Linked DNA regions of Homo sapiens. The protein of the gene in region 1 purifies or fractionates together with the protein of each later gene. This does not show direct contact. Each region holds a gene or a part of one and is shown in the gene's direction. Other genes may lie near its edges. The genes, in order: PCDHA7 and KLRG2.

Region 1 (3,917 bases):
ATACGATGATAGTAAAAGCAAGAATATTGTAAGAGGTGCTAGAAAGGTACATCATAGTGTTATTGGAATTGGAAAAAAATCTTTGCCTTTTTCCCTTGTTGAAGGAGACCGTGAAGAGTCATGATGTTTTACTGGTTATAAAATGGAAAGAGTTTTCCCTGGGAGAATATGGAGACTAACAGGTATTCATGAGAAGAGAGTAACTTAAGTGAGTATACAGAAAATTCCAAATGTACCTAGAAATGAGGAATAGTCCACTTTGGGTAAAGCACATGGTTCCCATAAGAGAGAGTGTGATATAAAGCAAGAAAAGTAATATGAGAAAAACCTTTTGTATAACTTTGAGTACTAGACGAGTAATTTTGACACTCTTCAAAGTCATTTGAAAGCTGTCAAAAAGTGTGAAGCAATACGAATAAAAAGTATTAACGGAAGATGACTGCAAGGATTAAATGAAGGAGAATGAAATAGGAATGGACAGGTTACACAATAAGAAGCTACTGCAATACACCAGGAGAGCAGCAATTATAAAAACTTATTTAGGAAAGCATCTGAATACAGACATAATTATTTTACATGCCATTGGGAACATTGGAGTGAAACATTCCAGAAAACGAACACAGTAAGGTAGATCCAAAAAGGATGAAATACCTCAAGACTTGATCAAAGGGCTGCTGTATGTGAGATGGCTGAGCACTGAAATTTATCTAATAAAATAAACTTACATTTTAAAAGAAATAATACAAATCATATTTGAGATTGTAAAAATAGGCATATATTCATAACACACAAGTGTTCGAAAGGATAGAATGAGGAAACAAATATAAAATGATGAACTCCTGAAACAGTATATATAGATTCTGCTAAAGCAAAAAATTCAGAATACTTCCTCCTCAAAAAGTTCACATGATACAAATTCTTCCCCTTCAAAGATTCCCCAAACCTTCTCTTATTTTGTTTTCCCAAGAGAAGTGTCTGGATAGTTGCTAATGTTTCTTGCCTCCTAAAAAGAAAACACACACACACACACCGCTTTCTAAGTTTCTCTTTCATCAATCAGTAGATTCTTGAGATCCTGGGTCCCTAAAAGAGTACAGGATTTTTCTTAACAAGCGATACTGAATCAAGAATATGAAGTTTCCTGGGATCTAGATCAAAGGAATTTAAACTTGCAGTTGTTTAAATTCATGTTGTCACTTAGGTTTCTATCTTTATTTAAAACTGTGTGAAAAAAAAGTTTTTCTAAGGCATGAGGAAGCTACAGTTCTGGTAACACTGAGTATTCAAAAGCCATCAGTCGCCTAAGAATGCTTCTAACAATCATGAGAAATGCTATTTTAACCTTTAACAACAATGAAGAAAAAAATTCAGAGTTTGAAATAAAACTTTTCATCTGATTAATAGTTTGTAATGGTTTGTAATTCTTACTTACATGATGGCCACATGATGTCGCTCTTTACCGCAAATTCTTTCGTAATCAGCAAAAGGAAGTCATTCCTTTTCGCACTGGAAAGACGCTCCACTCTCTTTCACTCTTTGGATGCACAACAATGGCCACACATCGAGATTGAAATGAAGGGATAAAAACATTCCTATAAATTCGAAGGCAAGTTTTGCTGACTAGAAAAACAAGCCAATAATTTGAAATGGTGTGCCCGAATGGATACGACCCAGGGGGCCGACATCTACTGCTGTTTATTATAATTCTAGCAGCTTGGGAGGCAGGGAGAGGCCAGCTCCACTACTCGGTCCCCGAGGAGGCTAAACATGGCAACTTCGTGGGCCGCATCGCGCAGGACCTGGGGCTGGAGCTGGCGGAGCTGGTGCCGCGCCTGTTCCGGGCGGTGTGCAAATTCCGTGGGGATCTTCTGGAGGTAAATCTGCAGAATGGCATTTTGTTTGTGAATTCTCGGATCGACCGCGAGGAGCTGTGCGGGCGGAGCGCGGAGTGCAGCATCCACCTGGAGGTGATCGTGGAAAGGCCGCTGCAGGTTTTCCATGTGGACGTGGAGGTGAAGGACATTAACGACAACCCTCCGGTGTTCCCAGCGACACAAAGGAATCTGTTCATCGCGGAATCCAGGCCGCTTGACTCTCGGTTTCCACTAGAGGGCGCGTCCGATGCAGATATCGGGGAGAACGCCCTGCTCACTTACAGACTGAGCCCCAATGAGTATTTCTTCCTGGACGTGCCAACCAGCAACCAGCAGGTAAAACCTCTTGGACTTGTATTACGGAAACTTTTAGACAGAGAAGAAACTCCGGAGCTTCATTTATTGCTCACGGCCACCGATGGAGGCAAACCCGAGCTGACTGGCACCGTTCAATTACTCATCACGGTACTGGACAACAATGACAATGCCCCAGTGTTCGACAGAACCCTGTATACGGTGAAATTACCAGAAAACGTTTCTATCGGAACGCTGGTGATTCACCCCAATGCCTCAGATTTAGACGAAGGCTTGAATGGGGATATTATTTACTCCTTCTCCAGTGATGTTTCTCCAGATATAAAATCCAAGTTCCACATGGACCCCTTAAGTGGGGCAATCACAGTGATAGGACATATGGATTTTGAAGAAAGTAGAGCACACAAGATCCCAGTCGAGGCTGTCGATAAAGGCTTCCCACCCCTGGCTGGTCATTGTACAGTTCTTGTGGAAGTTGTGGATGTAAATGACAATGCTCCACAGTTGACTCTCACTTCCCTGTCTCTCCCTATTCCAGAGGACGCCCAACCAGGTACCGTCATCACATTGATTAGCGTGTTTGACCGAGATTTTGGAGTCAACGGACAGGTTACCTGCTCCCTGACGCCCCGCGTTCCCTTCAAGTTGGTGTCCACCTTCAAGAATTACTATTCATTGGTGCTGGACAGCGCTCTGGACCGCGAGAGTGTGTCCGCCTATGAGCTGGTGGTTACCGCGCGGGACGGGGGCTCGCCTTCTCTGTGGGCCACTGCTAGCGTGTCCGTGGAGGTGGCCGACGTGAACGACAACGCCCCGGCGTTCGCGCAGCCCGAGTATACGGTGTTCGTGAAGGAGAACAACCCGCCGGGCTGCCACATCTTCACTGTGTCGGCGGGGGACGCGGACGCGCAGAAGAACGCGCTGGTGTCCTACTCGCTGGTGGAGCTGCGGGTGGGCGAGCGCGCGCTGTCGAGCTACGTGTCAGTGCACGCGGAGAGCGGCAAGGTGTACGCGCTGCAGCCGTTGGACCACGAGGAGCTGGAGCTGTTGCAGTTCCAGGTGAGCGCGCGCGATGCGGGCGTGCCGCCTCTGGGCAGCAACGTGACGCTGCAGGTGTTCGTGCTGGACGAGAACGACAACGCGCCGGCACTGCTGGCGCCTCGGGTGGGTGGCACTGGTGGCGCAGTGAGAGAGCTTGTGCCGCGGTCTGTGGGCGCGGGCCATGTGGTGGCGAAGGTACGTGCAGTTGACGCTGACTCAGGCTACAACGCGTGGCTTTCGTATGAGTTGCAACCGGTGGCGGCCGGTGCGAGCATCCCGTTCCGCGTGGGGCTGTACACTGGTGAGATCAGCACGACACGAGCCCTAGATGAGACGGACGCACCGCGCCACCGCCTTCTGGTGCTTGTGAAGGACCACGGGGAGCCCTCGCTGACAGCCACAGCCACCGTGCTGGTGTCGCTGGTGGAAAGCGGCCAGGCACCAAAGGCGTCGTCGCGGGCATCGTTGGGCATTGCAGGCCCAGAGACCGAGCTGGTGGATGTCAACGTGTACCTGATCATCGCCATCTGCGCGGTGTCCAGTCTGTTGGTGCTTACCCTGCTGCTGTACACGGCGTTGCGGTGCTCAGCGCCGTCCTCTGAGGGCGCATGTAGTTTGGTAAAGCCCACTCTGGTGTGCTCCAGCGCGGTGGGGAGCTGGTCATTCTCCCAGCAGAGGCGGCAGAGG
Region 2 (3,817 bases), on another chromosome or scaffold:
ACTCTAATTCCCAGGGCTTGTCTTTGTTGACTTAAACCATTTTCTTAGGGAAGAAGAACTGAGCATATGCGAAATTCATTTATACCGCTCTGCTCCTAACCTGCCTCAGTGTGAATATGTGCTTCTTGACATTGTTGTGAGTGATATGTACTTGCTAGTGTAGTCTTTTTTTTTTTACATGGCATGATTTCATATTTACATTTTCCTGCATAATGACATTTTCTATACACTTGTCATTTTTAATAGCACTATAATTTTCCATCATGTTGACATCCTATAATTTACCTTGTTATTTCTTGATTGCTGAGCGTTTGGGGAGTTTCCAGTTTTTCTTCACAAATAGCACCGTGTTATCTTTAGATAAGTTCATTTTTTTCCCTTTATATTCTTGGATTTATTTCTCAGTGAAATCACCCATTTGAGCAGGAGTGGTGGTGCTGCTCTTGTCACATAGCACCAAACGACATTTCAGAAAGAACAAGCTGATGCGGGCCGTGCCGGCATCACTGCCCCCTCCACCACGTCCCCACCCTGGGACTTAAAAGATTTAAACTTTTTTTTCCAAGTTAAAAAATCTTGGCCGGGCGCGGTGGCTCACGCCTGTAATCCCAGCACTTTGAGAGGCCGAGGCAGGCGGATCACGAGGTCAGGAGATCGAGACCATCTTGGCTAACACGGTGAAACCCCATCTCTACTAAAAATACAAAAAATTAGCCAGGCATGGTGGCGGGTGCCTGTAGTCCCAGCTACTCGGGAGGCTGAGGCAGGAGAATGGCGTGAACCCAGGAGACAGAGCTTGCAGTGAGCCGAGATCGCGCCACTGCACTCCAGCCTGGGCAACAGAGCGAGACTCTGTCTCAAAAAAAAAAAAAAAAAATCTTGGCCGGGTACAGTGGCTCACACCACTAATTCTACACTTTGGGAGGCTAAAATGGACAGATCACTTGAGGCCAGGAGCTCAAGACCAGCCTAGGCCAACACGGCAAAACCCTTCCCTACTAAAAATACGAAAATTACCTGGGTGTGGTGGTGCATGCCTGTAGTTCCAGCCTCTCAGGAGGCTGAGGCGGGAGAATCGGTTGAACCTGAGAGGCGGAGGCTGCAGTGAGCCAGGATCGTGCCACTGCACTCCAGCCTGGGTGACAGAGCAAGGCTCCATCTCAAAAAAAAAAAAATCTTAAATATATACTTTAAAACATTGTCTTTTTTGCTTTAATTCATTGTTAAAAATAGTGTGACATTGAGGGCAAATATTTAAAAGAAAAAAGTCTCCTCTAGTACCTCTCCAGCACACTTACTTTGGTTTTTGTTGTTCCTGCACATCTGCGTGTGTTATTATTATTATTATTATTATTATTATTATTATTATTATTATTATTTTGAGATAGAATTTCCCTCTTGTCAGCCCAGGCTGGAATGCAGTGGCGCAATCTCGGCTTACTGCAACCTCTGTCTCCTGGGCTCAAGCGATTCTCCTGTTTCAGCCTCCCAAGTAGCTGGGATTACAGGCGCCCGCCACCATGCCCAGCTAATTTTTTTTTTTTTAATAGAAACGGGGTTTCACTATGTTGGACAGGCCGGTCTCGAACTCCTGGCCTCAGGTAATCTGCCAGCCTCGGCCTCCCAATGTGCTGGGATTACAGGCATGAGCCACCGTGCCTGACCACCTCCCTCGCTTTCTGAGCTTCCTTGTTTCTTTGCCCACTCAATGCCCACTGAGCATCACTTAGTGGTGTTTGGCGTTCACATCCCTTTGGCTGAGACGGGGTCACCCTCATTTTGGCCCCCAGCCCTGAGCACAGAACCTGGCACCCAGCAGGCATCCAATCCAGCTTTCAAGGTTTTTTTGTTCTGCAAGTGCTGGCTTGAGCAGATCCTTCTGGATTGGCCAGCTGGGATCCTGTGGAAGCCCCAGGGAATCCGTACGCCCCAGGCAAGCCACGCCAGTGTCCAGGGGAGTGACCAGCTTACTTTTCTCCCTCAGGACTTCCTGGGCAGATACCCAGTCTCCAGGCACTCCTGGGTGGGGGCCTGGCGAGGCCCCCAGGGCTGGCACTGGATCGACGAGGCCCCACTCCCGCCCCAGCTGTGAGTGACCACGGGCTTTTCTCCCTCCTCTGCTGTTCTGGATCCTCCATTTCTCCCCAGACTCCACCTCCTTGCTGCTCCCCTAGCCTGGAATGCCACTTGGAAAGCAGCCCACGCCCATGCTCGCGGCCTGGTGCCTGATTAGACCCTGTCGCTTCACTCTTTATTTGGGTTCCCAGCACGTTCACCCAAGCAGGGTTGTCACCCCCATTTTACAGATGCGGGGTCAGCTGCCCAGGGAGGTTTGGGGATTCATCCAGTGCCACGTGGCTGACCAGTGCAGTGACTCACTCAGTGCCCAGGCCGGTAGAGGTGACAGGCACACACGCTGGAGGGTCTGGCTGGGAAGCAAGGCCCCGGCACCCTAAACACCTCTCCTCTTTCCCCTCCCATCCTTTCCCAGACTCCCTGAGGACGGCGAGGACAATCTGGATATCAACTGTGGGGCCCTGGAGGAAGGCACGCTGGTGGCTGCAAACTGCAGCACTCCAAGACCCTGGGTCTGTGCCAAGGGGACCCAGTGATCTGGGCTCTGCCTGGTCCTCAGCCTGCCAGGCAGATGCAGCACCCCCTACAGGGGAGGCCAGTTGAGAGCTTGGGCAGCCTCTTCCTGGACCCAGTTATCCAGGTCTTCATGCTCTGCTCAAGGGGGCCACATGAGCGAGCCTAGGAGCTGGACTTCAACCCAGGAAGATGCATCCGAGGGAAAGGAGATTTTCTATGGCCTCAGGCCTGAGTGCCAATATTAGTCTCCAGCTTCTGTGGATGATCGGTTTGATGACATTGGGATGGTTGTTTAGCATTTCTGTGCCTTGGTTTCATTAAAATGACAATTTCCCCCTAGAGGAAAAAGACAGGGTTAACAACCACAGCGGATTCCAATCTGGGTTCTCATTCCGGCTCATGGAAATGAGTCTGCCGTTGTTCAGTGGCAGTGGGACTTGGCAGGGATAACGTCATTGCTGTGAATTCTACTTCAGGCAGCTGGGTGTACATCGGACACAGCCTACCGGCAGCCTCTGGAAAATTAACCAAGGAAAAGGAGCGGTCAGCCCTGGAAAGAGGGGAGAGCAAGGTTTTCCTTCCCCACCCTGAGAGTTGGCAAAGGGTTGGCAGACAGGAAGGTTCTGGGTGGAGATCCCGCATGTGGGCTGGCCAGCCCCTGGCACGCTGATGCCCAAGGGTGAGACAAGGCAGAGAGGACAGGGCCACCTGGCAGGAGAAGCCAGGAGAGCACCCCAGCTTGGTAGGTGGAAGCTGAGGAGTCTGAGTGAAAAAGGAAATCAGAGAAATGCAGGCACGTTCCAGGCAGCTCTTCTACCCACAGCTGCAGAGACGACCAACCTGAAGATGTCTCCATGCTGGGGTGCAGTGAAGACCTTCAGGCTGGAGGATGTGGCTGACAGAGTTGTGTAGTTCCTTGAGTCCAGCTAGACCTCCAAACAGCAGGAGCCTGGGCCTGCGTGTTGGCTTGGTGCTGAGCACGCACTCAACTGGCCCTTGCAAGCCAGCCTTCCCTCAAAAGTCAGACCATGCACCCAGATCCCTCCCAAACAGAAATCCTTATTGGTGCGTTTGAACCAGTAATGGGCCGTCTGGGAGAATGGGATGGAGAGTCCTAGATGGGAGAAATTTCTCACACTGTATTTTTCATTAGTATTATTATACTTTAAGTTCTGGGGTACATGTGCAGAACGTGCAGGTTTGTTACATAGGTATACACATGCCA

The links.
Region 2: the proteins of PCDHA7 (region 1) and KLRG2 purify together in Homo sapiens (affinity purification with mass spectrometry; one large-scale study listed by BioGRID and IntAct). This does not show direct contact.

What each region holds. Positions count from the first base shown.
Region 1 is NC_000005.10:140,832,738-140,836,654, forward strand, and holds the start of PCDHA7 (protocadherin alpha-7 isoform 1 precursor), read left to right. Parts: upstream 1-1,531; 5' UTR 1,532-1,646; coding exon 1,647-3,917. UniProt on the Homo sapiens protein: Calcium-dependent cell-adhesion protein involved in cells self-recognition and non-self discrimination. Thereby, it is involved in the establishment and maintenance of specific neuronal connections in the brain.
Region 2 is NC_000007.14:139,452,382-139,456,198, reverse strand, and holds the end of KLRG2 (killer cell lectin-like receptor subfamily G member 2), read left to right. Parts: intron 1-1,984; coding exon 1,985-2,088; intron 2,089-2,491; coding exon 2,492-2,612; 3' UTR 2,613-3,509; downstream 3,510-3,817.